Linked DNA regions of Homo sapiens. The protein of the gene in region 1 interacts with the protein of each later gene in a pairwise test. Each region holds a gene or a part of one and is shown in the gene's direction. Other genes may lie near its edges.

Region 1 (3,500 bases):
CATTAAGACATGTTATAGTACTCTTGACCATGACTTCAGAGTTAATCAACAATACATATTAAATAAGTTGTCTTTAATCAGAAACACACATGAAACAAAGTTATGTATTGATCCATTGACACAAATGTTGTGACAAGAGGCTAGCAGAAACTTAACCCAACATTTCTCCTAGGAGCAGTGGTTCAATATTCACTAATTCAGTGTCCGTGGTGACTTTATGGAATATGACCACCACAAGCAGCAAGAATTGCCTGTAAATAGTACACATTGGTCTAAAAAATCACACAGTAAATATACAACACTACATAAGAGGACAGAATAATTCTGATAAGTGGGACTTGGAAAGGTATCATTCAGAAGGGGATATTTGACCATCCCTTATGGGAATGTGGGACATGGAGTGTAGGAATGACAATGATGTGAATGAACAGTCAAGGAAAAGCCAGCTTTCTCTAAATGTGTCTTAAGTTAAGGGAACCCAGGGTAGGTGATTCATCTAGATGAGGCTGGGCCTTAAGTAGTGAGAAGCTGTGGGATATAGCAGTGTGACTTTGAACAAGTTACTCAGAATCTTATGTCTTAGTGTTCTCATCTATAAAATTGAGATAGTATTAAGTATCACATAGAGGGATTGGGAGAATTCAGTGAGTTATTGCATGTAAAAAATTTAGATAAGTTTCTGACATGGATTAAGTGCATATATAACTTCTAACGTTTATTGTGGAAGCCTTTGAATGTCAGGTTGACAATTCCAATGTCATTCAGTAAGCAATGGAAATTGTTTCTATATCTGTATCTAAATAGATCTACCTAAAACAGAATTGTAATGGCCTCAAAAAACTGGAATAGCAATTTAAAACTATCACATTTTTCAAACTGCAACTGGAAATTTTAAGAATCAATGCATGTCTGCAAAAACCAACTTGTGGCTATTTTTGTTGGTATTACTGCTGTCAATGCCTGACACTTGAGTAGGTCAAGAGTGGCTTGGGAATTAATGATTTTAACTTGTCTTGATTAACAAATGCCTTTGTTTTGTCTTTAGATAAAAGCTTGTCAGATGGAGAAAGAAAAACTAGAAAAGCAATTAAAACAGGTATGTTGATCTAATTTTCACGCATACATTTATTCCCATGTACAGCATTTCTCATTGTCCCAATTAAAGACATGTTCAAGCTCTGCTACAGGTGACCTACAACAACCCATGCTTTTCATTACTGACTACACCATCAACGGATAGACAGTGCTTAGGCACCACCAAGGCCTTTCAACCCTAACACTCATAGAAAGCATATGCTTTATAGAGCATGTTACCAGTAGCACAAGTCTTAGTGCTCCTTAGACCCACAAGCACCTGGAAATAGATTTCATTGGTATTTCATGCAGTTGCTGACACAATTAACAGTAGAAAACTAAATCAAATACTGCCTCTTTTGAAAAAATAACATGCCTTCTTGAGCACTGAAGCATTCTATCCCATGGGTTCTCTAATAGCCTTAAATAATGAATATTATTTGTCCTAATTCCTAATTTCCTTTCTGGATTTTAGTTTTCCCTGGCTACAATTTAAGAAAACCTATTTTATGACTCAATGAATAGATTTTCTTCATTGAGGGCCCTCAATAAAGATAACTCAAAAACATAAAGTTAACTCTATATACTTTTCAAGTGTGTCTAATTTCTTCAAAATGGGGAAATGATTATAGTTTCACCTTAGGTAAAACTTGACCTGTGAGCCTCGTTTGTATTGGTCCTGAGTCTATTGACATGTTTACTATTTTGAGTTATAATTATGCCAGATTAAGTGGAACCTTAAGATTGAAACCAAACCTTTTGTATAAAGCAATGTCACTGCAACTCCTCAGTCTCTCCCACTGGTAGTGACCCCACAGTTTTGTTCTCCTCAGATGTATTGCCCACCCTGTAACTGCGGCTTGGTTTTCCACCTGCAAGATCCATGGGTACCAACAGGCCCTGGAGCTGTGCAGAAGCAACGGGAGCACCCAGTAAGTAAGAGTGCATTTGAAAAAGTGCTTAGTATACTGTTTTGGTAGAAATTATGTGCATCTCTGGAATTTCAGCACATTATATTATCTACAGCAAGAGCCTCTGTTTTCTCTCAGCCTCTAACTTGCAAAGTTGGAGTGGTCAATGTACACTAGAATTATCTTTGGGACACTGAATCCATAGGACACATAGATACGAATAAATTAACTGAAAGGTATTAAATTGGGAATAATTCCTTGAACAACATATAACATTTTCAATTGGCATACTTCATTCTACCCAAAGGACATTTTCTGTATAAAGTGTATTTATGTATAAAGGAAAGTGGATATGGCAAAACAAGAAAAATGAGATGCTTTTGTTCGGTTGTAAATTTATATTGAACTACTATGGATATTGCTACATATGTGCAAAATAGATTTTGACATTTTCCAATTGAAAGGATTTTCTTAAAGGATCCAAGAAAAAGTGACCCACTTAAGTTGTTCTCCATGGCTGTGTCTTCCCAGACAAAATGAAATGCAGAGTTGAGCAATTATTTGTGAGGGGAATTGATTTGGACAGTCAACCTGAATTAGTGAGGCCCAAAGCACCCTTTTTTTCCTTCTCAATAGCAGTATTCCACCTACCCTCCTCTACTTTTTATTTTGCCTACATAGATAGAAATTTATCCAGGAAAAAAATATGCATTTTCTGCATTTTGGATTTACCCAGACAAATCCCGCTACCCTTTAGGTTTGATTAATTGTGTTTCTCATGATGAAAAAATCTAAGATTTTTAACTGGGATTTTCCTACCAGAATGCTTACAGAGAACATGATTCTCTTGGCTTCCTGAAAGTTCTCATACTTTTGTTCGAGTGTGACTCAAAACCCTTTTCCCAAGGGAGGAGATAATGACTCTTTGGGTGGCTGAAGGAATGTGAGGATTTAATGAGCATCTCTTATTTGACCCTGGTATGACACAGCACACCGCTAAGAATTGAGTCTTTTCATGTTATTGCGGGTTGCTAGTTCTGTCTGCTCTCCCTCCCCCTTTTCCTTTTTTTTCTTTACCTGTTTGCTTACTTTTCAGTCTTTACCAATAACATTAAATTTTTTTTTCAAGAATGTAGAAGTCAACTCAGATTGTGAGAAACATAAAGAGAAATTTACTGTAGGAGTGAATTAACCTATAGGAGTTGGCTTCTACAGGTTGGGGGATTGGAGAAATATTCTTATGAAAGGTTAACTATAAAACCAATCAGTCATTCACATTTACCTAGGAGTACAAATTATTGTTTCAGTCAAATATTTCTTTATGGAAAGAAGGAAGGAATTCACCTACTATAGCTCATCAAACAGTCCATGTCAATTAAAAAAGGCAAGGCAGTCCAGGTCACATAAAATTGTCACCAAATAAAGGCCTATATTTGAAAAAGGACTCCAAGCCATGTAGAATGGCCTACATTTTCTTTCTTTTTTTCTTTTTTCTTTTTTTTTGAGAAGGCATCT
Region 2 (4,004 bases), on another chromosome or scaffold:
AGGCGTGAGCCACCGTGCCCGGCCTAACTATCGCCTTATTGGTGATGCCTTCGCCTTATTGGTGATGTCTAAATAAATATTTATTTATTTATTTATTTATTTTGAGATGGAGTCTCGCTCTGTTGCCCAGGCTGGAGTGCAATGGCGTAATCTCGGCTCACTGCAACCTCTGCCTCCCGGGTTCAAGAGTTTCTCCTACCTCAGCCTCCTGCATAGCTGGGACTACAGGCGCCCGCCACCACACCCGGCTAATTTTTGTATTTTTAGTAGAGATGGGTTTTTGCCATGTTGGCCAGGCTGGTCTCAAACTCCTGACCTCAGGTGATCCGCCCACCTCGGCCTCCCAAAGTGCTGGAATTACAGGCGTGAGCCACCGCGCCCCGCCACGATCTTTCTAAAACACACATTTGACCTTCTTTGTTCTAAAAATGTCTCGGTGGACTCCTCGCTGCTCGTGGGGCCAAATCGCAGCTTCCACACAACCCGCCCTGTATGTGGACTGCACTCCGTTTCTAAACTCATCTCTTGCGCCACTCAGCCAGTGGCCCCCAAGGCAGGACTGGTCCTGGCTCAGGATCCAGTCGAAGACACTCATCTCGGGGGTCTTTTCTGACCGCGCTTCCTCCTCTGGCCCTCTAGGCGGCCTGAGCACGCTCACTGACACCGTTTGGCGGCCTGTCACCCGCGTGGCTGGGGCACCTGCAGAAACTGCTGTCGCTGCGAGGTGCCCGTGTGGGTCACCGCTGTGCCAGGGAGAGAAGACGGCGAGGTCGCCCCTGGGAGGCAGAAGGCGAGCCAGGAGCCAGTCCTGGAAGCCAATGAGTGAGTGTGAAGGGTGTTCCGCTGCGTCAGCGAGGCCCGACTGCCCTTGGGAGGAGGAGCCCAGGGGCCAGCGCGGCCCGGGCCGCCCTCGCCTCCCACCCAGGGCGCTGAGCACGCACGCCGCCGGCCTGGCGGCGTTCGCGGGGCCCGGGACCAGCCGCCGCCTTCTCCAGGCGCTCCTACTCTCTGGGCATCTGCAGTCCGAGCGGAAGGGGCGGGAACGTCGGCGACGCCGAGGAGCAAAGCCCACGATCGGCTTCCCGGGGCAGCGGACGGCTGCCTTCCTCCCGGCGCAAACGCACCGCCCAGGAGGGGGCGGGCTCGGCGGGTCGGGGGGCGGGGCCGGGGTCCGAGCTCGGGCCCGCCTCCGCCTCCGCCAGCTCCTGTGAGCTGCCGAGTGCTAGGCACCCGGGCTCTTCTGGGGGCTCCAGGTGAGCGGGGGCACAGAGGGGTCAGGGAGACCGCCCTTGGGGTGGGGCTGTCGGTCTGACCGCGGGTCCATCTGTCCTGCCGTCGGCCCACAGCCTCCTCCGCAGGATGGGAGAACAAAGGGAGGGGGCGGTTCTGGGGCCCCCGAGGGAATCCAGGGTCCCAGGTACCCGGTCCCGCCCACTGACACTTGGGTTTCTCCCCGAGTCAGAGGCGCCGCCCAAGAGACCCTGGGCCGGCGCCGGGCGCAGCTGCCTCTCCGTCTTTGTGTCTGTCTCTGTGTCTGTCTGGCTATCTCCGAGTTTGCCTCCGCTTCCAGAACTAAGCCACCCAGACACCATCATCTCGAAAACCCCAGCCCTTCTCCCATGGCAGGTAAGTGCGCGCAAGTCTGGGGGTCTCCGTTATCCCCCCCACGGACTTGGGAGCCGGGTTTGAACACATCCTCCCGGAATGTGCTCGGACTGGCTGGGTGGGGCCCCTCCCTTCCTTCCGGGGAACCTCCACCCTGCTCCCCTGCCCCATCTTTCTCTGCCTCTTGCCACCACGTTTCCCCCGAAGCCTCGCGGCCCATGGGCTGAGGAATAAGGGGATGAGGCCTTGAGTCCCTTTCTAATCTATCCTGCTCCCACCGCTTTACAGGCTACTTGCCCCCCAAAGGCTACGCCCCTTCGCCCCCACCTCCCTACCCTGTCACCCCTGGGTACCCGGAGCCGGCGCTACATCCTGGGCCCGGGCAGGCGCCAGTGCCCGCCCAGGTACCTGCCCCAGCTCCCGGCTTCGCCCTCTTCCCCTCGCCTGGCCCCGTGGCCTTGGGGTCTGCTGCCCCCTTCTTGCCACTGCCAGGGGTGCCTTCTGGCCTCGAATTCCTGGTGCAGGTGAGTGGGAAGGAGGGAGGGAGGATGACTGGGAGGGGACTTGGGCGTCCAGATGGGCCAGCTGATGTGCGCGCCGCCCCTCTCTTTCCAGATTGATCAGATTTTGATTCACCAGAAGGCTGAGCGAGTGGAAAGTAAGTAGAAGGAGTGGGAGGTTGGACCTCATGATGGTGGCCCGGATGGTGGGCTCCTGGGCGCGCGAGGCTCTACGAGTCTCCCCGTGTCACCTCGGGCAGCGTTCCTAGGCTGGGAGACCTGTAATCGGTATGAACTGCGCTCTGGGGCCGGGCAGCCCCTGGGTCAGGCGGCCGAGGAGAGCAACTGCTGCGCCCGTCTGTGCTGTGGCGCCCGCCGGCCGCTGCGTGTCCGCCTGGCCGACCCCGGGGACCGTGAGGTGCTGCGTTTGCTCCGCCCGCTGCACTGTGGCTGCAGCTGCTGCCCCTGTGGCCTCCAGGAGGTGGGCGGAGGGAGGGGGCCGGGAGGGCGGGCCTTGGTGGGGCGGGACAATGATGAGGTCCACCTGAGATGAGGCCTGGATCAGGTGGGAGTGGGCAGGTGGGGATGGGAGGTTTAGTGAGGGCCAAATAGACAGATGATAGAGCTGGGACCCCTGCCTCCGCAGTGACCCTGTCTGCTTCCCACTCCCAGATGGAAGTACAGGCTCCACCAGGCACCACCATTGGCCACGTGCTACAGACCTGGCATCCCTTCCTCCCCAAGTTCTCCATCCAGGATGCCGATCGCCAGACAGTCTTGCGAGTGGTGGGGCCCTGCTGGACCTGTGGCTGTGGCACAGACACCAACTTTGAGGTATCAGGAATACTAGAGGCTCTTGGGACCTTCGTAAACCAAGATGATGCTTCCATGAGGCAGGATAGTTAACATTAAGGTCAAGACCCTGAGCTCATCAATCCAAATCCACTGTGACTCCGACCGCATTTGTAGCATTCCTCCATTTGGAAATAGGATGGCCCTGTGCTCTTATAAAAGCATAACAACGAGGATTTCATCTTAAGGAGCAATGCTGATTATTACAAGTGGCCCTGAGATGGGCAGAAAAAAAATCTAAGGCCAGCCTGGATTTGGGGTGAAGGACGATTAAGTCTGTGTGGGCCGGGCCCATGTGGCTGCTGTGTATGAGTGTGTGAGCCCAGGCCCTGGAGCAAGCACGATTTTAACATGTTAACATCCTGTGGCCTGCCCTGCTAAAATAGAATCCAAATGCCCCTGCCATTCCGAAATCCAGTATATCCTTCTCACTGTGCATTCCTGTCACCAGTCTGGAAGCTAGAGATCCCAAGTGGCAAGAATTTCAGAGTGAGGTGAGGCCTGGGAAGCACCTTGGTTTCTAGAAGACAAAGGCACTCCACAGACCCTTGAGTTCTTTTTTTGTTTGTTTTTTGTTTGTTTGTTTTGAGACAGAGTCTTGCTCTTGTTGCCCAGGTGGGAGTGCTATGGCATGATCTCAGCTCACTGCAGTCTTTGCCTCCCGGGTTCAAGCAATTCTCCTGCCTAAACCTCCCGAGTAGCTAGGATTACAGGCATGCGCCGCCATGCCTGGCTAATTTTATATTTTTAGTAGAGACGAGGTTTCTCCATGTTGGTCAGGCTGGTCTCGAACTCCTGACCTCAGGTGATCCGCCCACCTCAGCCTCCCAAAGTGCTGGGATTACAGGCGTGAGCCACCGCACCTGACCGACCCTTGAGTTCTTTAAGGGATAATTGCTTGTGCAGATAAGGGAGAAACAACAGGTATAATCCAGTAGACTTTCCAACGCTTCTAATGAGGTACCCTACCTAAGGTTACTTTGCAAAAATGAGTCACCTTGGTAGCCAGAGGGAGATTCCATGATGAGAACCAATTGGGAATAAGAT

What was found. Proteins that work in one complex are often made in the same cells at the same time.
Region 2: the proteins of TNIP3 (region 1) and PLSCR3 interact in binary tests that used the Homo sapiens proteins (3 or more experiments, as listed by UniProt).

What each region holds. Positions count from the first base shown.
Region 1 is NC_000004.12:121,140,322-121,143,821, reverse strand, and holds part of TNIP3 (TNFAIP3-interacting protein 3), read left to right. Parts: intron 1-1,045; coding exon 1,046-1,096; intron 1,097-1,907; coding exon 1,908-2,006; intron 2,007-3,500. UniProt on the Homo sapiens protein: Binds to zinc finger protein TNFAIP3 and inhibits NF-kappa-B activation induced by tumor necrosis factor, Toll-like receptor 4 (TLR4), interleukin-1 and 12-O-tetradecanoylphorbol-13-acetate.
Region 2 is NC_000017.11:7,391,726-7,395,729, reverse strand, and holds the start of PLSCR3 (phospholipid scramblase 3), read left to right. Parts: upstream 1-1,204; 5' UTR 1,205-1,253; intron 1,254-1,458; exon of another isoform or gene 1,459-1,462; 5' UTR 1,463-1,619; coding exon 1,620-1,626; intron 1,627-1,893; coding exon 1,894-2,129; intron 2,130-2,220; coding exon 2,221-2,263; intron 2,264-2,365; coding exon 2,366-2,586; intron 2,587-2,751; coding exon of another isoform or gene 2,752-2,777; coding exon 2,778-2,939; intron 2,940-4,004. UniProt on the Homo sapiens protein: Catalyzes calcium-induced ATP-independent rapid bidirectional and non-specific movement of the phospholipids (lipid scrambling or lipid flip-flop) between the inner and outer membrane of the mitochondria.